Homo sapiens: one gene and its partners. The protein of the gene in region 2 purifies or fractionates together with the protein of the main gene of each other region. This does not show direct contact. Each region holds a gene or a part of one and is shown on either strand. Other genes may lie near its edges.

Region 1 (7,000 bases), about 120 Mb from region 2:
TTTTGGTCATTATTAGAAAGGCTTGTCTCTGCGACTCAAAAATAATTCTTCCATAGTTTCTTTAATATTACTAAAATAATTCTTCCGTAGTTTATTTAATATTACTGTTTTATTTCTTTATGCCTAAAACTTAGATACATCTGTAAAATTTTTTGATGTGAGTTAGGGATCTCATTTTTCCATATGACTACCCTTTTCTTCAAATACTATATCCTGAATTTAAATGTAATGATAAGGGGCTGGGTGCAGTGGCTCATGTCTGTAATCCCAGCAGTTTGGCAGGCTGAGGTGGGCGGATTGCTTGAGCTCAGGAGTTCAAGACCAAACTGGGTCTCTACAAAAAATACAAAGATTAGCCAGATGTGGCGGCATGCGCCTGTTATCTCAGCCACTTGAGAGGCTGAGGTAGGAGGATTGCTTGAGTCCTGGAGGCGGAGGTTGTAATAAGCTGAGATCATGCCACTGCACGCCAGCCTGGGTGACAGAGCCAGATCCTGTCTCAAAAAATGAACCAACTAACTAAATAAATAAGTAAATGTAGTGATATGGAAAGTTGCTTACAATATTACTTCTTAGTATTGACTTCTCATGCACTATAGAACTCATTGTTCTGACTACATAAAACACCTAATTTTTCATTTATGAAAAATTACAGAGCACATGCTATGTGGTCAGCTACTAATGATGAAACGTTGAGATGGCTCACCTGTAAGTTCTTCAGCATACATCTCCTAAGATTTTAGCATCTGTTTTACTATCTGTTGTCTCAATTGATTATTTTAGAAAGTATAGACAATTTTTCCAATTATATTATTGCCTCTACGTTTATTAGCAAACGTTCTTATGATAGAAACAAGCTTTTATCTCCTTCCCTTTGACATTATGGACTCAAATCATTATTTACCCTCATACTGTTTCTAATTTTCTGTTTATTTTTTCTAGCTCTGTGAGGAGGAAGAGTCATAGCTATCTCTTTCATCATTTTATCCCTAGAACCTAGTGCAATACCTACCACAGAGTGGTTTCCTAATAAATATGTACTGAATGAATGAATACTTCAAGCAGTGGGGAGCTATTGAAGAATCTCAAGGGAGGATGTAATGTGAAATGATTTATATTTTGGAAAGGTAATTCTGATGTCATTATGGAAGAGAGCAACTTGAGCAAAGCTCAGAAAAAAAAAAGAAAGAAACAGGGGGTTGCCCTGTCACATCACCCAGGCTGGAGTGCAGTGGCACAATTATAGCTTGCTGCAGCCTCAAACTCTTGGGTTCAAGTGATCCTCCTTCCTCAGCCTCCTGAGTAGCTAGGACTGCATGTGTGTACCACTACACCTGGCTGATTAAAACAAAATTTTTTTTTGTAGAGATGGGCTTTTGCTATGTTGCCCAGGCTGGTCTTGAACTCCTGGCCTCAAACAATCCTCTGGCCTCAGCCTCCCAAAGTGCTAAGATTATAGGTGTGAGCCACTGTGCCTGGTCCAGGAAAGCTTTCCTTTGGGTTCTGTATCAGTTGGGACCTGATTACAGATAATCCAACTCAAATCAACTTAACAAAAGGAATTTATTGGATTCCATAATCCAGAGAAGGGTTGAAGAACCAGCCACATGAAGGATGTAACTGGGCTTCAGGAACAAATAAGAGCAAGGATGCCAGTGCCACTAATATTTTTAGTCTTCGCCTCACTCTATTTTTATCAGTTCCAGTTTGTTTGCTGATGTATCAATTAAATGTGGTTTAGGCATAGAGTTTATAAGGGTATGGTTGCTTCCTGAGTATCCATGTGGACTGAATTAGTATACCTTTGAAGGTATTGTAGAATCCAGGAGGAGACGTGGAGTATTAGAACTAGGTGCTAAGTGGAAAAGATGGATTTGAGAGAGATAAGTAATAAAGTTGACAGAATTTGTCCAGGGGGAAATCTTGAGCAACTGCTGGTTTGGTGAATCTGTTAACCATCTGAGGGAAATATAAGAAGCATATGCTTGGAATGGGAGGGAACATGATGAGTTTTGATTTTAGAGATGCTAAGTTGGAGAACGTGTAGGAGCTAGTTGAATATAGACATCCGAAATCTTATAAGAAAGGTCTAAGCTTAAGTGCTTAGGAAGTCAGTAGCAAAGGTAAGTGTTATGGAGGTGAACAAAATAGCTCAGTCTGAGTGTAAAAGTAAAGAGAACAGGAATCTTGCAGAAAAGCTAACATTGAAGCCATGTGAACAGAAGAAGAGTATAAAATAAATTATAAGGCAATTAAGGAAAGTAAGAAATAAGAGTACCAAAGAATCCAAAGGAATTTTATCCATGAGGGATATGCCATTTAGGAATTGAAAAAAGTCAATTTGCTTTGACCATTAGGAGATCATTGATGATGTTAATGAGAAAAGTTCCAGTGGAAAGTTGGGAGCTGATTGTATTAAGCTCAAAGGGTTAATGATAGAGATGAAGTAGAAGCAAACTAGGTAGAATTTTTTTCCTACAAGTTTGTGAAGGGAAGATGAATGAGGGCATTGTAGGGTTAGGGCATGAATGAGGGCATTGCTTTGTTTTGTTTTGGAATGGGAGAGATTAGTATATATTAGTAGTTTTAAACAGTAAATAGTCTTTTATTCTAGGTTGGATAAAATTTATTTTTATGTGTAAGTATTAACTGCCGTCAGTGTTTATTAGTGTTAGTGCAGAGAAAATGGGACTCAGACCAAAGACCTGAGTGCTAATCTCAGTTTTCCCTGAATAATCGCCATAATAATTATAATTACCATTTTATATTCCCTTCTATTTGTCAGTCATTGTGTTAGTAGGTCTTTTGTACATACTATCACTAATCCTCACCACAAATTTATCTCCAAGGTGAGTATTATGCTGTTGTATAGATAGACTCTGAGAGTTTACTTTTTAGGATTACATAGATTTTCAGGATCATGCTTTGATTTCAACACAGATATGTCTGATTCTGAAGTTGGTGCTCTTTTCTCTATATCACGTAGCTTTCTTTTCTAACCTAAAGTAGTTTCTCAAGTTTTGGCTCCTTGTTTCCTTAACTGTCAGATAGGAATAGTTATATCTGTCACACCTATATCAAAGTGTTAAATGAATACTATGGTAATATCTGTATTTTGTTTGAAAAAATATTTATTTGGTTAAATACCAGACTGACCTTATCATTGTGGTCATCTTTAGCACTATCATTTGTCTAAACAGTATTTTACTTTTTAAGGTGGTGGTATCATGGATACAGAAATGTCTGAAGATATAGACCACAACTTAACTCCTACCCTTGACAGCATGTCTTATGGAATGCCGAATCAAACAGGATCTGAAAATTCATTGCTGGATGAAGATGATTATTTTTTGAACTCTGGGGATCTTGCAGGAATTCCAGTCGTTGGTAGTGACAATGAGGATGAACAGGATTTTAGTTCAAAGGACAATCTTGTTTCTTCAATTCATACTGATGATAGCTTGGAAGTAGAGAGAAGAGTCACACAGCATGAATCAGACAATGAAAATGAAATACAAATTCAAAATAAGTTAAAAAAAGACTTTCCTAAACAATTTGATCAGGTTTCTGTCTTTAAATCAATACGGAAAGATTTTAGTCTAGTAAGAGAAAACAGCAAAGAGACATTTTCTGGAAAGGAGAAAAATAGAGACCTAACTTATGAACGTGAAAAACGGTTGGATAAACCCCATAAAGATTTGGATTCAAGGTTGAAAAGCAGTTTTTTTGATAAAGCAGGTAATAATTGTTGGACTTAGAACCATAAAACACAATTAAAAATTACCGATCATAATATATAGCTTTTATTACTTTTGATGTTAAGTGAAGTATGAACGGTTAAATTCATTGTAAGCTTGTCATTTTTCTTTTGTCCTTGTTCTTTGCAGAGTGACTGAATTTCTCCCAGTAACTTTTGGTAATGGTATAAATGGTTGAAAATAGCTCTAAACCTCATTTCTCCCTCCCCTGGTTGCAATGTTTTGATGAGAAAGGCAAGATACTTGAATCACCTGTTCATTTTCTTTGGTTGAACATTGGAACCTGAAGTTGGATTTAACTTCTTTGTGCTGTAAGCACTAATTCAAACTGCTGTCTCACCACTTAGTCCAAATTAGGGAGTTATTTTATTTTTTTAATTTTAATTTAATTTTTTGTTTATTAACTCTCACCTCTATCTGAAAGGGAGTTTTTTTTTAATAAAAAAAACCCAAACATTTCTAATTTATGTTTTAGAAGTTTCTTGAGGTTCCTCCTGAGCCTCTTTGCCCAGTGTACCCTATACTTTAGCTTTAGTTAACATTCTTGAATATATCACATATTTCCTTCTATGCCTTCCTTTCCTCCTGCTATTCCATTTGCCTGCATGTCATTTTCTCTCTGTATATTTGCTTGTGAAAGTACTTCTTATCCAACAATGCCTAACTCATAAACCTCTTCTACTCTGTCATCATTCTAACTGCTCTACATCAAGAATGGTTTCCTTATCTATATTTCCACAGCATTTTCATGCCTCATTATTTATAGTACTTATCACACAGTATTATAGTTCTATATTTGTTTTACCTTACCTACTAGTGTAGGAGTTGAGGGCCAGATTGTATCTTACTCATCTTTGTATTCTTGGGGCCTAACCTGGTGTAGTAAAATAGTAATTCTTCAATAAATGTTCAATAGCTGTGAAGGAAAGCAAGTATTCTATACCAGTCCTTGTATTTCTTCTAACAATGCTAGGAAATGTATGGTAGAAAGAACAAACCAGTATTGTTAAAAAGACAGCTTTTGAGTATGTACAAGTCTGTGCAAGGATATACTATATTTTTCTCTATAATTCAGTATATATTTCCAATATCCCTTCTTGGGGTATGAGAGTCATGTTTCTCAAGGAACATAATGTCTAGTAGTAGAATGGACAAGACAAGTCAGGCCGTAGAAGTGCCAATGTCCAGCTGAATAGCGTAAGATTTAATTTACAGTTAAAGACAGTGGTAGAAGAGTTTGTCATAAGGCAGTTCAAAAAGATGTCTTTCAAATAACTGAAACTGTGTTTTAGGGATTCTTAGAAGAGAGATGATTTTTAACTTAGTGAACAGGGAAGGTTTTATAGAGGAGAGGTGAATTTTTAACTGAGCTGAGTCTGGAAAACTGTATAAAGATTAGGATAGACAGAGGGGACTTGGAATAGAATAAGTAGAAATGGGGGAGAACAAATGCAAGCAATTTTCAGAGCAAAAATAATTTTTTTTTTTTTTTTTTTAGGTTTGAGCAAGGAAAAAATGTAGGGTAAGGCTAAAAGCTAGGTGGGGCCAGATTGTGCAGAACTTTGAGTGAAAATACCTTTTGGGTGTTTTTGGGACCCAGTTCACTCTAACGAGCATCTTTGTTGGAAAAGAGAGGTGATTATCAAATGATAGCTTTTTAGGTCACTCTTTGTAAGATTTGTTATTCATATACATGTGTTTGTTTGTTTTTTTTTTCCTTTCAATAGCTAATCAAGTTGAAGAAACATTACATACCCATTTACCACAAACCCCAGAAACAAACTTTAGGGTAAGTTTTCAGTGTGTATGTAGATTGCTGTAACTGTGACAAGTGTCAAAGTTTTCTTTATGTCAGTTTCTAAATTCTAACAATGTATTAGGTAGAGCACTGATTTTTTTTTTTTAATTTGCTTAATATTTGTTTAAGGTCATCATCGGAGACATTCTAAAAAGCCTCAAATCTTAGGGTCTTTATTTGTATTTGGTATTTGGACATATAACACAATTACTTTTAGGCGTAGGCATAAGATCCAAAAGCTAATGAATGTCCATAGAGTTCTTCATTTCCAATGAGCTTTTCTTTGGGTGTTAAACCTGAAGAGGAATCATTTTAAAATCTGAATATTTATTAATCCTTTATATTGTGTTTTAGGATTCCAGCTACCCATTTGCCAATAAAGAATCCATTGGTTCGGAACTGGGGAATTCCTTTGCATCAAATATTAGAATTAAAGAAGAACCTTTGGATGATGAGTATGACAAAGCAATGGCACCACAGCAGGGACTACTAGACAAAATAAAAGATGAACCTGACAATGCTCAAGTAAACATTTCACCTTTTTTCCCCCCTTCTTTTTGTTCCACACATTGAATTATTCATTTGAGAGAGGAAGTGCTTAAGAAGTGAAATAGTTTGTTGACAGGGTGAAAGGAAACTCTTAAAGAAGGTTGAGGCGATTTGAATTACCATATAAGGCATTAACGAGCTATATGAAACTTTTCCTGAGTAGTAATTAAGGCTTTTAATCATCTTTGTTTCTTAATACCACTGTGATTTTTGCAATGCATTTTAGCGCAAGGCTTTGAGAACTATACAGCAGATATGGTTGAAGATTTATGGTAGTTTATAAGTTTGTGGTGCAATCAAGTTTATGTAGGATAGTAAGCCTTTTGCAGTTAATGCTAATGAAGTACAGGCTATATATGGATTTAAATATTTTTCAGGAGGGGTTAATGGACAGATCATCTTTGGAAGGGTTAATTGATTGAAGAACCAGTTCATTGGATTAGTGGATAGAAGGTAAAGGAGGCTTTGATGAATGATACATGATTCCAAGTTTGAGATCTGTGAGTAATAAGAGTGAAGGTAGAGCTCTGCTATTTCAAGGTTGCTCTGGAGATAAAATCATAGAGATCTTAAAACTGTGAGGTCCTGAAGTCAGCTAAGCTATCCATGCAGTTAATGATGTTGCTGTTGTTGGAATAGAAGAAAAAAGTTATATCAGATGCTGCAATCATTTTGAAGTGCAAGAAGGGGTCCAAGGGACGAATATGCAATAGCAGCAATTATTTGAGGGTATCTGTGTTTTGTAAAGATGGTATGAATTGGCTCTTTTTCTGAAATGACATTTAATCTGGGGGAAGCTTATATTTTCCTATCTTTCTGTTTATATTAGAAGGTTTGAGACTGTCAGACTTCTGTGGAAGTGCTTTCTTTTTCTTTTCTTTCTTTTTGTTTTTTC
Region 2 (7,112 bases):
TTTCATTACCATTTCATATAATATAGCTATTAAAGTAGTTTGGGATCTGTGTCTATGATATAGTACACTTAAATTCAACTACATTCAATGTAATGATAAGACTTAGGGATTTAAAATAGAATCCAAAGACAAACCCAAATCCAGAACAAACCACAACTAATTTGCTAAGTCAGCAAACAAATCAGAAGTAAATATTTGGCTTAAGTAAATAGCAAATATTTTCTCAAAAAATACTAAACCAATGCAAGGTAGAATCTAAACCGGCAAATTTCTTTAAAATACTGAACACGGCAAATGTACAATCTCTAATTTACGCCTAACTTGCAAGTCAACATTTCATTCAGAATGGAGATATCACCTATGCTACAATCATTATGGTAAATAAAGTTAGTTGATCTTAATGAAGAGAATAAAAAGCTAAACATGACCGAACTTTACCACCTGACTTTCATCTTTACCAGGCCCCAGTTTATCTTGATCTGATTCCTAATACTTACCCCTCATATTGCTGTAGTCCAATTCTTAGCACTGAGCCTCAGATCTCTACCTCCCATATTCCTATACTGTCCACTGCCTCCATGCCTTACCCAGGCCCGGAGATTATCATGTAATTCTAGAACTTGGATAATGAGTACAAAGGGAGGATAAAAGAGAGAAGGAAGAAATTACAAATGTCCTGTGTCCTCCATTCCTAGGCAAGTATCCTAGGAAGTTATCTATGGGATAAGATTCCCACCACCTCTCACCGCAAGTAAAAACTTAAAGCTGACACATCTGTCTCCTACCAGTCTTCTTGACAGTTTTATGAGGGCTGCAGTCAATGCTGACATGTGTGCTGAAGTCTTCAATCAGCTGCATAGCTCCCATCAAGTTACAGGGTTGGAACAGGGTCTGAAACTTGGGGTTGTACTGATGGTGAAGGGCGATGGAGCTTTGAGCAAAGGTTCCCAGCTCTTTCTGGGAAAACACGACACAAGGAAGATCTAAGACAATTCCAGACAATTAATACCAATAGCCTTCAGAATCTAAATGAGAAGCTGACCTTCCTACTACAGGATAAAAACAGGTAAAAATAATCATAAAGTCTTTCACAATAAACTACTGTTAAGATTATGCCTGAGTTCTCAGATATTCAGGGATTATATTCTTGTTTTATTTTTAAACTGTTTCTCACTAAGGAATACATGGTCTAGCTCCCGAGCTAGAATTAAGAGTCTCAAGAATGGGGACTATTACTTTAATTTAATTAATTAATTTATTTTGAGACATGGTCTCACTCTGCCGCTCAGGCTGGACTGCAGTGGCATGATCTCAGCTCACTGCAAACTCCCCCTCCCAGGCTCAAGCCATCCTCCCACTGCCTCCTGAGAAGCTGGGACTATAGGCATACACCTCCAAACCTAGCTGATTTTTGTATTTTTTGCAGAGACAGCGTTTTCCCATCTTGGCCAGGCTGATCTCGAACTCCTGGGCTCACAATCCGCCTGCCTCGGCCTCTCATAGTGCTGGGATTACAGGGATGAGTCACCTCACCCGACCAGGACCATTACTTTTAAAATTGTTTTGTCTTTTGGTCTCAGAATAATGCCTACAACCAAGTACTCCTCATCCTCCTCTGAATACAGTAAGAGATGAAGACATCCTGTTGATCACCAAGGAAGTTTTAGAATACTAGCAAATGTACTCTTCAAAATCCAAAGAAGACTTACTGAAGAAGCTGAGAGTATTATCATTACCTGTCCAAAAGTTTGAGGCAATTTTTATGAGGTAAAGTATGGTTTTGTTTTTGTGAGACAGGTTCTCACTCTGTCACCCAGGCTGGAGTGATATATAAGCACGGCTCCCTACAGTCTCAACGTCCCAGGCTCAAGTGATCCTCCTACCTCAGTCTCCCAAGTTGCTGGGACTACAGGCACTCGGCACCATCCCCAGCTAATTTTTTTATTTTTTATTTTTTTGGTAGGGATGGGGTCTTACTATGTTGCCCAGGCTGGTCTCAAACTCCTGGGCTCAAGCAATCCTCCCACCTTGACCTACCAAAGTGCTGGGACTACAGGCATGAGCCACCATACCTGGCCAAATTTCAAATTTAAAATCTCAAAATAGGCCGGGCGCGGTGGCTCACGCCTGTAATCCCAGCACTTTGGGAGGCCGAGGTGGGCGGATCACGAGGTCAGGAGATCGAGACCATCCCGGCTAAAACGGTGAAACCCCGTCTCTACTAAAAATACAAAAAATTAGCCGGGCATAGTGGCGGGTGCCTGTAGTCCCAGCTACTTGGGAGGCTGAGGCAAGAGAATGGCGTGAACCCGGGAGGCGGAGCTTGCAGTGAGCCGAGATCCCGCCACTGCACTCCAGCCTGGGCGACAGAGCGAGACTCCGTCTCAAAAAAAAAAAAAAAAAAAAAAAAAGCTCAAAATACCTCAAAACGTCATGAGCAAAACTAGCTCTACACATAAAACACTAATATTGAGCTTCATGAATGGATAATGAATTCAACATCTACATGTATATTTACTTCATTATTTAAATTAAAACAAAACAAAACAAAAAAAACACAGACCGGGTCTTACTATGTTGCCCAGGCTGTTCTTGACCACTGGGCTCAAGTGATCCTATCACCTCAGCCTCCCAAAGTGCTGGAATTACAGGTGTGAGCCACTATGCCCAGCCTCAACATCTATGAAATGAATAGCGGTACCAAAAACCTAAGAAGTCAGGGTGAATCTAAAGATGAGGAGGAGGACCCAATAAAAATATCAGAAGGACAGGCCAGGCGCAGTGGCTCATGGCTGTAATCCCAGTACTTTGGGAGGTAGAGGTGGGCAGATCACTTGAAGTCAGGAATTCGAGACCAGCCTGGCCAACATGGCAAAACCCTGTCTCTACTAAAAATACAAAAAAAATTACCCGTGGTGGTGCCCGCCTGTAGTCCCAGCTACTTGGGAGGCTGAGGCAGGAGAATCACTTGAACCCGGGAGGCAGGGGTTGCAGTGAACTGAAATTGTTCCACCGCACTCCATCCTGGGTGAAAGAGCAAGACCCTGTCTCAAAAAAGAAAAGAAAAAATTGAATACACTCTTTGTCCTTTCATGTGAATCAGTGGCTTATGTTCACTCAGCAAACATAGGAAGCCACAGCAATCAAAAATACCTGAGAGAATAACTGTGAGAAATAACCTGCCAAGCTAATTTTATATTCTAGTCTATAGAATTACGGCAATTTGGAAACTTACAAGACATATCCTGGTGCTACTGGCCTCCGGATTGAGATTGGGGTTGCAGGTGGCAAGAAGGTGGATTTGTGTCAAGAGCTGAACATGCTGGGGAGAGAAAGAAAATAATGCAGTGATATGTTATGACACTGCCATTTCAGGAGCCCAGAGATATTTTTTTTTCCCCCTGGAGACAGGGTCTTGCTCTGTCACACAGCTTGGAGTGCAGTGGTGCAACCATGACTCAATGCCCTCTCAACCACCTGTGCTCAAGCAATCTTCCCACCTCAGCCTCCCAAGTAGCTGTGACCACAATGCCTGGCTAATTTATTTTATTATTATTATTATTATTATTTTTAGACAGAGTCTCGCACTGACTTTTGGGCTGGAGTGCAATGGCGTGATCTCGGCTCACTGTAACCTCTGCCTCCCAGGTTCAAGTGATTCTCTTGCCTCAACCTCCCGAGTAGCTGGGATTACAGGTGCCCGCCGCCACACCCAGCTAATTTTTTGTTTTCGTAGAGACGGGGTTTCACCATGTTGGCCAGGCTTGCCTCAAACTCCTGACCTCATGATTCACCCGCCTTGGCCTCCCAAAGTGCTGGGATTACAGGTGTGAGCCACTGTGCCCAGCCTTATTTTTATTTTTTGTAGAGACAGAGTCTCACTATGTTGTCCAGGCTGCTTTTGAACTCCCCTGCTCAAGCAATCCTCCCACCTCAGCCTCCCAAAGTGCTGGGATTACATGTGTGAGCCACTGCACCCAGCCACCAGAGAGTCATTAACTAAGATGTTTGCAACTTTATGACACAAATTTTGCTTTCTGCAAAGAGTGTGAGAACAACGTAGGATCTTGGCATAAATTTCTCAGACATGTTCCCTTGAACAAAATGACAGAACCAGAGGAAGTTTAACCTCTAAACAGAGGAGGAACTGAGATTAGAAAAGGAAAAGGCCGGGCGCAGTGACTCACGCGTGTAATCCCAGCACTCTGGGAGGCCGAGGCGGGTGGATCACGAGGTTAGGAGATCGAGACCATCCTGGCTAACACAGTGAACCCTGTCTCTACTAAAAATACAAAAAATTAGCTGGGTGTGGTGGCGAGTCCCTGTAGTCACAGCTACTCGGGAGGCTGAGGCAGGAGAATGGCGTGAACCCGGGAGGCAGAGCTTGCAGTGAGCTGAGATTGAGCCACTGCACTCCAGCCTGGGTGACAGAGCGAGACTACGTCTCAAAAAAAAAAGAAAAAAGAAAAGGGAAAAGGGAAAAAAAACTACTTGTCACAGTGAAGGTTAAATTTCAGAATAGATTACTGAGGACTCTTTGAAATCTGTAATTCCGAATACCATTAGGGTCCTTATGTGCTGTCTTCCCTGAGCCACAGGACATGAACATGATGACTTCTCAAGCTCCTAACTGATGTGAAGATACTACGGTTTTAATACGTAGTAAGGTAACTATCTCTGACATTTACAAAGCTGCTAATTTTAGATTATACCAAAGCCTCAGAGTTAGGCCTTGGTATAATTCAATATTAATATGACCAAGGAAAGTGTTACCTGCTGCATCTGCTGCTGGAGTCTCTTCCTTTGTGCTGGGTCCAGAATCAGGGTCTGATGAACTTCCTTACACTGGGGTTTAACCTTCTCTACCTCCTTCTGCTGTTTGGCTGAAGGTTTCTTCATCTTCAGCTGTTCAAATAGTTCCTTCGCTATCTGATGTTGTTCATTTAGTAGGTTGGCCAGTAGTTCCTCAAACCTATCCCAAACGGGGATGACTGAATTTGAGTGTTTTCCTAGGTCCACAACACATCCAATTCTTTGCAATGATGAGCAAAGAGCCTGAACAATTTTCATTCCCTACTAATCCCCCCTTTTCACTTTAGCCAACAGTCAAACTCCCAGCCTTACACAAATCTTTTCCCAAAGTAGTTAGCATGCATCAAATGATTCTGTATTACACCCCATCCCATTCCTCTACAATTCCTCTTCCAAATAATATACAAATGAAGAAAAAATTAAACAAAAAACTAGGGACAGAGAAATATATGGGTAAGAAAGCAGCCAAGGAGCTGGTGGGAACTCATCATTCTCATTTCTTCTCTCATTACTTGTTACTCCCTGGGATGTTACTCCCATCCCAGGTCCAGCTTGTCCCATTATCCTATCTACTCAGGCTGCACTGCCCTGCTTTCTTAACAAGTCAAAGACTTTCTAGCATGAAGCAGGAAAAGGATATACCAAAATAACTGAAGTACATGGTAGTTCAAATGAACAGAACGGAGAAGTTAGTTAAAATATTATCCATGAAGGCTATCTTCTTTTAGCCCTTTAAATTCCTCTTCCAAGGTTCCTAACCCTAACTTCCCATCCATACCCTCCTGAAAGATTGTTTGCAGGGCTGAAGCAAAAATTCCAATACCTAGCATGTCAGTTCTATGTATGATTACTATACCTTTTCTATGTTTACATAGAAAGAAATAAAGGGAGAATAATATACCTAAATGATTAAGCATATGCTGATACCCTATGCAACAGGATAAGATCTGCTGAAGTAGCTATAACAAGCAGGTTATCATATTTCAAGGAACCCCCTATATTACAGCAATAGTTAAATGGTAACGTTTTTCAATAGTTTTTGCAGATAAAGATTACGTTTGAATAAGTTTTCTTTTATAGTATTTACTGTAGGTTTGGGTAGCACAGAGTAAAAACCTGAAGACCGTGGGACTGTCTATACAATCTTTACTGAGAACTGAAAATTTGAACATCCGCGCTACCACCACTGAAGGAACAGAAGAGAAGAAGCATAAAAAAGTAGAAAATGGAAACATAGCCTGCACTTAGTTTTAACAAGGATTATTTAGGTAATTGATAAGGGAAGCCCCAGAGTTTTTGTTTTGACTGTCTTTTTCTCCTCTCTCTTCCTTATTGTGTTTTAAGATGTGCTTACTCTCTATGGACTTACAGAGGGATTTTTATTTAGTCAAAGATTAAAACAAAAACAGGTTTGTATTTGCAATCGAAAGAGAAGCAGAAGCTGCCCAAGTACAGTCATGCGCCACAGAATGTTTCAGTCAATAACGAACCACATAGTCAGAGGTGGCTCCATAAGATTACTGTACCTTTTCTATGTTTACATACATATGTACTTACCATTGTGTTACAACTGCCTACAGTATTCAGTACAGTACAGTAACACACTGTACAGGTTTTGTAGCCTGGGAGCAATAGGTATGCAGTAGGCTAAACCATTTAGGTTTATGTAAGTACATTCTACGATGTTTACACAATGATGAATCGTTTAATGATAGATTTCACAGAGGGTATGACCATGAGATGATATATGACTATATTCCATTGAATACCAGAAGGTAACTGGATTCTAACAGGAATTTTAAATTAGTTCTATATTTTCCAAATTTTAAGAAGTTATAAAGAGTTGATCAGCAAAACCAAAATATTTATTAATCAGATCCTATTATACGTTCCCAGGATGAATGGTTCCATTCTGCTATACCAGAATTTTGTTCTATGAACTATAAATTAAAATAATGGGTCAAATACTGACTTAGCAATCTTGAGATTTTTGATGTAGTTGTATTGTGATATTTGTTGTAATGGAGAATGACTAGTAGTTCTAGTTTTTAAGACATTGGTTGGCCTATCTTATCTTTTTTCACTAAATTGGAAAATCCCTAAAGGTCTAGCTTTCAGATGGAACCCAAGCTCTCTGCTTAGTAGTGCTGTTAAGTTCAAACACAGGACTAATTACAGGGACTATTCTCTTTGCTTTGTTCCACTTATGGCACAAACTGCATCCTGACCTCTCGCCATCGACCTAATGATTATATGCTGCTACAACAGAATAAAGTGCAGATGCAAATCCACCACAAAAT
Region 3 (7,000 bases), on a different chromosome or scaffold from region 2:
TGTTCTGAAAAATCTTTGTTTTAAATTTTTTTAATCCTGAGTTTCTAAAAACATGAAGATAATGTCAGACCTGTTCCAAGTGAGAATTATTTCTGGGCATACTTTCATGACAAATATTTGAAGCACTCTAAAGCTCCAAAAGACTTTAGACCTAGTTCATCTTCAGATTATTTCCATCTTAACGTTTCCACCTCTTTGGCCCCAAAATGGGCACCTTTTGTTGCCATTTAGGAAAGGGAGAAGTTTGGGGTTTTTTGGTTTGGTTTTTGTTTTTTTTGAGACAGGGTCTCACTATGTCACCCAGGCCAGGCTGGAGTACAGTGGGCCATTATGGCTCACTGCAGCCTCAAACTCCTGAACTCAAGCGATCCTCCCACCTCAGCCTCCCAGGTAGCCGGGACTACAGGCTCGTGCCACCAGGTATGGCTAGTTGTGTTTTTTGTAGAGACGAAATCCCACTCTGTGCACCGGCTGGTCTCGAGCTCTTGGTCTCAAGCAGCCTTTCCACCTTGGCCTCCCAAAGTGCTGGGATTATAGGCATGAGCCATTGTGCCCAGCCAAAGGAGAAGTTTTGAAGGGAGCTTTTACTTACTTATTTTTGAGTCAGGGTCTTGCTCTGTCAGGAAGGCTGGATCACAATGGCACGATCTTGGTTCACTGCAACTCCCATCTCCTGGGCTCAAGTGATCCTCCCACCTCAGTCTCCCGAATAGCTGGGACTACAGGCACACACCACCACACCTGGCTAGTTTTTTTGTTGTATTTTTTGTAAGAGATGGGGTTTCACCATTTTGCCCAGGCTGGTCTCGAACTCCTGAACTCAAATGATCCACTCGCCTCAGCCTCCCTAAGTGCTGTGATTACAGGTGTGAGCCACTGCACCTGGCCTTGAAGAAAGCTTTTGGTGTTTGGGATAAACATGTTCTCTGCTTTATTCAAGAGCAGATGCTAGCTTAAGTACCAAGACAAATTCTTGAGGGAGCTCAGAGTTTTTAATCTAGGTTGCTTGGCTAAGTAAGAATGTTGGAGATATCTGTTGAGAATATTAATGGTGGTGCTTTTAATGACCTCTTGGGCTAGGAAGAAAGCATTTGAGAAATCGTATTTTTTTTGTTATTCCTAGGTGGGAAACAGTTAAATAAATACGATCCATTCAGTAGAAACCCTCTGTTCTGTGGAGCTGAAAATACAAGTCTTTGGGAACTCAAAAAGGTAAAATAATTTCAAATTGTCTTTTATTCATTTATGCTATATATATATATATATATTTTTTTTTTTTTTGAGACAGAGTCTTCCTCTGTCACCAGGCTGGAGTGCAGTGGCATGATTGTGGCTCACTGTAACGTCCGCCTTCCGGGTTCAAGCCATTCTCCTGGCTCAGCCTCCCAAGTAGCTGGGATTACAGGCGCCCACCACCACGCCCAGCTAATTTTTGTATTTTTAGTAGAGACGGGGTTTCACCATGTTGGCCAGGATGGTCTTGATCTCCTGACCTTGTGATCCGCCTGCCTCAGCCTCCCAAAGTGCTGGGATTACAGGCATGAGCCACTGCGCCCGGCCTATGCTGTATATTTTTGCCCTTGAGGATGTAATGCCTTGAAGTTTTTGTTTTTTTATGATAATTATAAGCATTAATAAACATTAAAAGTCCACATTTGGGGGAAGATACTATGTGAAGTGTTCATTTTGTAGAAAATCTTAAGTGTGCACGTAAAATAAGGATGTCATGCATGGGTTATGACTGTTGCTTTTTGTAGGTAGATTATTGCATATAGAGTTGAGAAAATGGATAAATTTTGCTTTATTTATTAGATACCTCTGAAAAGTTTTATGATAAAATTTTTTGCAAGTAAAGTTACTTTTCTGAATTTGTAAGAGGAATTCATATTTTTAATAACCTTTCTGTGACTTTTTGTGTAAAGCCAGTAAGTATCTTATGCAGCTATTCTCAAAGTGCGGCCAGACCACTAAGAGTTCCTGATACCTTTTTAGTGAGTCGGCCAGGTCACAGCTCTTTCCATAGTAATACCAGTACATTATTTGTTTTCATCACTGTGTTGACGGTGGCACTGATACTATAAAAGAAATGATAGGTAAAACTGCTGCAGCTTATCCTGAATAAAGACAGCACCAAGCTGCATCAGAAGCCATTATATTCATCACTGCCACATATGTGCAGTTAAAAAAAAAAAAGCCAGTATGACTTAAGAATGATGACACAGGGAGAATTACTGATTTTAGTGTCTTGACCTTAAAGTAACATGTCTTTTTAGTATTTCGTGTGCATACATAGCAAGTATGCGTAACATACCTGTGCTGCCTACCTAAAGCATGAAGGTTGTCACGTGTCTCAAGGACAAGTGCTTACCAGTTGTTGCAAGCTCATCTAGCTGCTCTTTCATGAAAGACTGACAAACTGGTTATTCAGGCTTAGGTATTTGGGAGATATTTTCTTGAAAATGAATGAAACAAAAAAGCTGGCAGTATTTGTTGTCAGCAATAAAATTCAAAAATAAAGCTTTCGAGCAAAGATTAAAGTTTTAAAAATCTTGTAACCACCACCTTGAGCTTGACAGTTTCTCAATTTGTAAAACTTTTCTGATGAAATCAGTGGTTCTAACAATGTGATTGTTGTGGTAAAGTATAACGAAATGTGCCAGTGTTTGGAAGGACTGCATATGGTATTTTTCCAATGACCAATGCACAATGTTACAAATTCTTTTTTTTGAAACGAGAAGGTTCTGTCACCCATACTGGAATGCAGTGGCGCGATCTCGGCTCACTGCAACCTCTACCTCCTGAGTAGCTGGGATTACAGGAGCATGCCACCATGCCCAGCTAATTTTTTTATTTTTAGCACAGACAGTGTTTTGCCATGTTGTCCAGGCTGGTCTCGAACTCCTGACTTCAGGTGATCCACCTACCTCAGCCTCCCAAAGTGCTGGGATTACAGGCATGAGCCACTGTGCCACCTGAATGTTACAAATTCTTGAGTGAATAAATGATTGATTCAAAGTAGACCAAATAATTTTAAGTAGCAAGTACCAAAAGCCAATTGAATATGGGTTTCAGATTCCATATTACAACTAATCTTTGGTTTTGGTATAGTACTAAAGAAGAAAATTCACAGCTATGTGAAAGACTATTTTCTACACATGAGGCCAGATTGTATGTTTCAACGTGGAATACAGAAGCAGATGAAATAATCCACTCTCTTCTGTTAAGCCAGACATTAAAGAGATTTGCAAAACTGTAAAGTAATACTACTCGCTATATATTTCGTCCTGAAGCATAATTATTTTTCTTTTTTTCTTTTTTCTTTTTTTTTTTGAGGCAGAGTCTTGCTCTGTCGCCCAGGCTGGAGTGCGGTGGTGCGATCTCAGCTCACTGCAAGCTCCGCCTCCCGGGTTCACACCATCCTCCTGCCTCAGCCTCCCGAGTAGCTGAGACTACAGGCGCACACCGCCACGCCTGGCTAATTTTTTGTATTTTTAGTAGAGACGGGGTTTCACCGTGTTAGCCAGGATGGTCTCGATCTCCTGACCTCGTGATCCGCCCGCCTCGGCCTCCCAAAATGCTGGGATTACAGGCATGAGCCACCTCGCCTGGCTGCATAATTATTTTTCATAAATATGCTACTTACTAGTATGTAGTAGCTTTATGGTTTTTGTTTTTGTTTTTTGTTTTTTTTTTTTGAGACAGAGTCTTGCTCTGTTGCCTAGGCCAGAGTGCAGTGGCGCGATCTCGGCTCACTCCAAGTTCCGCCTCCCAGGTTCACACCATTCTCCTGCCTCAGCCTCCCGAGTAGCTGGGACTACAGGCACCCGCCACCACGCCCGGCTAATTTTTTGTATTTTTAGTAGAGATGGGGTTTCACCATGTTAGCCAGGATGGTCTCGATCTCCTGACCTCGTGATCCGCCCACCTCAGCCTCCCAAGGTGCTGGGATTACAGGCATGAGCCACCGCGCCTGGCCGCTTTATTGTTATTTTTAATGGACCTATAAGTATTTACAATTTTTCTGTTTATTTTTATAACATAGGTGTCTGTAGATATAAACCTGTTGAATAGAAACTGATGGAATTTTTGGTTTTTAAGTGTAGGAAATGGTCCTGAGACCAATATGTTTTGAGAATCACTTTTTTAATGTATTGGCTTAAATTTCAAATTTTTGCATTTTCATTTTTGTTGTTGTTGAAATAGGGTCTCACTCTGTCACCCAGGCTGGAGTGCAGTGGTGCCATGTCAGCTCACTGCAGCCTCGACCTCCTGGGCCCAGGCAGTCCTCCCACTTTAGCCTCCTGAGTAGCTGGGAGTACAGGCACGCGCGCACCATCACACCCTGACTATTTTTGTACTTTTTGTAGACATGGGGTTTCGCCATATTGCCCAGGCCAGTCTCAACTTCTGGGCTCAAGCAATCTGCCTGCCTGAGCCTCCCAAAGTGCTGGAATTACAGGTGTGAGCCACCACACCCAGCCCGATTTTCTTAAATAAGCTATAAATGTACTAAGAGTCGACCTTAGAAATATTGATATTATTCACATTTTTCTTTTTAGTTATCTGTGCATTTTCATCCCTCCGTGGCCCTTTTTGCAAAGACCATCCTTCAGGTGAGTCTAAAATAAATCCAAAGATGAGAAATAAGAAAAAAAGTATCATTTTAGATAATCAATAATTGGTCATACAGTGTTTTCTCTAACAGAGAGAATCTTGTACATTTTACTGCTCGTATAAAGAAGCAGTGACTTGTTTCATACAGAGTAGCAGATAACTTTTCCCACTCTGAGATGAGTGGAAGCAATAAGACATTGAAAGCCACGCAGTTATTTATTTATTACCTTCTAGCTCCTCTCCTGGAGAAATACTGCCTCACTTTCCCATTTGCTGTGTTTGCCACTTCAGGGTTTGGTTCCTGATTAATGGTTAGATGGCCTGCATTATTAATATTAGTCTATCCATCAAATCAACATTACATCCTAGAATATGTATGTATATGTATCTGTGTGTTTAATTTTTTAAGTATAATGTGCATGAGAGAGATATTTGAAGAGTCATTTATTGCATATTTGTATCTTCAATACAGTGTAATAGAAATTATCTTTTTCTTCCTTTTTCTTACTTGGATTCATAGACATAATTTGAATTAAGTTTTTAAATCCCCGCTCCACTTTTCAGGGAAACTATATTCAGTATTCAGGGGACCCACTGCAGGATTTCACTCTAATGAGATTTTTGGATCGATTTGTATACCGAAATCCAAAGCCCCATAAAGGCAAAGGTATGCTTCTATTTAGTGAATTATTTGGCTTTCATTTTTAATACATAATAAACAATATGAGCTTATAACTAGGTTTTGCATTATACTGTCATAATTTTACATTTCAGAAAACACAGATAGTGTTGTGATGCAGCCGAAAAGAAAACATTTTATTAAGGATATTCGTCATCTTCCTGGTAAGTATAAACCTTAGACAGTTGAAACTGAAAAGACAATATAAGACAAAGATGCATAAATTGTATTATTCTTTGTTCTAATTTATCAGAATAAAACCTGAGCATCAAAGACATTATCCATCTTTTTTCCCAAGAATAGGTATTCTTAAATCTACTGTATCTGACTGGGCCTTTTTTTTTTTTTTTTTAACTTTATTACAGCAAATTTGAAACATATCCAAAATAAACAAAATAGTATGATGAACCCCCTCCCCATTACCATCACCCAGCTTTGACAGTTGTCACCATTTTATCATCCGTAGCTTCATCCACAACCCCTATGTATATAATTATTATTGCTTACAATTCAGACCATCTTAAAGCTCTCTAATATCAGCTTAGCAGCACAAAAACCCACAGCTGGTTTTGTCACAGAGCATCATTTTAAACTTAATAACCTACTTCTATATTTGCTAGCCATCTTCTGGATCTGAGTCTGTTGTTGTATTCAAAGCAGACATTTCTTTGCATACCAGATCTCATCTCCCTTTTGTTCAGAGACCAGGATTAAATTAGACCTTATAGATCATTTAATTTCCAGTGACTTACTTCACAGAGGTCCAGAGATGTAAAAGGACTTACCCACAGTTAGTAAGTTAGAATTAAAAGCCAAATCTCCTTTTACTCAGGATGAGTCAGCAATTTTTATTCTGAAGAGGTAAAACTGATTTCTTGTAGTTCCTTATTTCTTAGTTTTCCTCAGTATAAAGGAAAACTCTGTTAACTTCCTGTTTATTCCCAGAATGGCACGCATTAATGGCAAGCTTGTCATTTTTTGAGCTGAAAATGACAAGTTTAAAGTGATTATTTATTAAAATAACTCTTTGAATTTTTTATTTCTCTTGAAAGTTGGGTCCTGGATGCAAATGAAGAACAGTAAGAGAACCCTGTTGTTTCACTGTAACGGCACTGACAGCTATGTACTGCCTACTTTATGCTGTAGCCAGTGAAGTTTCAAATGTTGGGGGGGTCTTCACACAGACTTTTTCAGAGATTGTCCCTTGCACTCCAGAGTCCCTTCTGTCTACCTTCCCACACAATTCTGAGATTTTTAGAATTACAGATTATGCTGTATTTTGTCTTAAGAGCTTGAGTAACATAAAGGGGATTGCTATATGAAGTTAAAATGTTTAAATTTATTTTTGTAGTGAACAGTAAGGAGTTCCTTGCAAAAGAAGAAAGCCAAATACCAGTGGATGAAGTGTTTTTCCACAGGTACTATACATAATATAGTTTCATTTGGGGAAACTGCTAAAATTTAAATTTTTAGATTTCATAAAATGCTTCATTTTATGAAATAATCTACTTCAATAATCTACTACTGTGTGTAAATAGACCATGGAACATTAGTGGGAGAAGTGGCCTTAGTTTTAAATGCTTCATTTTATGAAATCTAATCAGCATATTTTGAAAAGATCAAAGGATATGTCTGTGTTTGTTAAGAAAATTTACAAATCCGTCATTTTGCTAATCTTAATATATCTTAGTAAAACTAAAGTAAATT

What was found. Proteins that work in one complex are often made in the same cells at the same time.
Region 1: the proteins of YY1AP1 (region 2) and ZMYM4 purify together in Homo sapiens (affinity purification with mass spectrometry; 2 studies listed by BioGRID and IntAct, with this or other methods). This does not show direct contact.
Region 3: the proteins of YY1AP1 (region 2) and CEBPZ purify together in Homo sapiens (affinity purification with mass spectrometry; 2 studies listed by BioGRID and IntAct, with this or other methods). This does not show direct contact.

The regions. Positions count from the first base shown.
Region 1 is NC_000001.11:35,355,709-35,362,708, forward strand, and holds part of ZMYM4 (zinc finger MYM-type protein 4), read left to right. Parts: intron 1-3,113; exon of another isoform or gene 3,114-3,216; coding exon 3,217-3,738; intron 3,739-3,893; exon of another isoform or gene 3,894-4,069; intron 4,070-5,485; coding exon 5,486-5,547; intron 5,548-5,910; coding exon 5,911-6,081; intron 6,082-6,482; exon of another isoform or gene 6,483-6,558; intron 6,559-7,000. UniProt on the Homo sapiens protein: Plays a role in the regulation of cell morphology and cytoskeletal organization.
Region 2 is NC_000001.11:155,671,775-155,678,886, forward strand, and holds part of YY1AP1 (YY1-associated protein 1), read right to left. Parts: intron 4,973-7,112; coding exon 4,774-4,972; intron 3,323-4,773; coding exon 3,236-3,322; intron 958-3,235; coding exon 786-957; intron 1-785. UniProt on the Homo sapiens protein: Associates with the INO80 chromatin remodeling complex, which is responsible for transcriptional regulation, DNA repair, and replication. Enhances transcription activation by YY1. Plays a role in cell cycle regulation.
Region 3 is NC_000002.12:37,214,597-37,221,596, reverse strand, and holds part of CEBPZ (CCAAT/enhancer-binding protein zeta), read left to right. Parts: intron 1-1,123; coding exon 1,124-1,212; intron 1,213-4,559; coding exon 4,560-4,613; intron 4,614-5,178; coding exon 5,179-5,281; intron 5,282-5,388; coding exon 5,389-5,457; exon of another isoform or gene 5,458-6,276; intron 6,277-6,644; coding exon 6,645-6,711; intron 6,712-7,000. UniProt on the Homo sapiens protein: Stimulates transcription from the HSP70 promoter.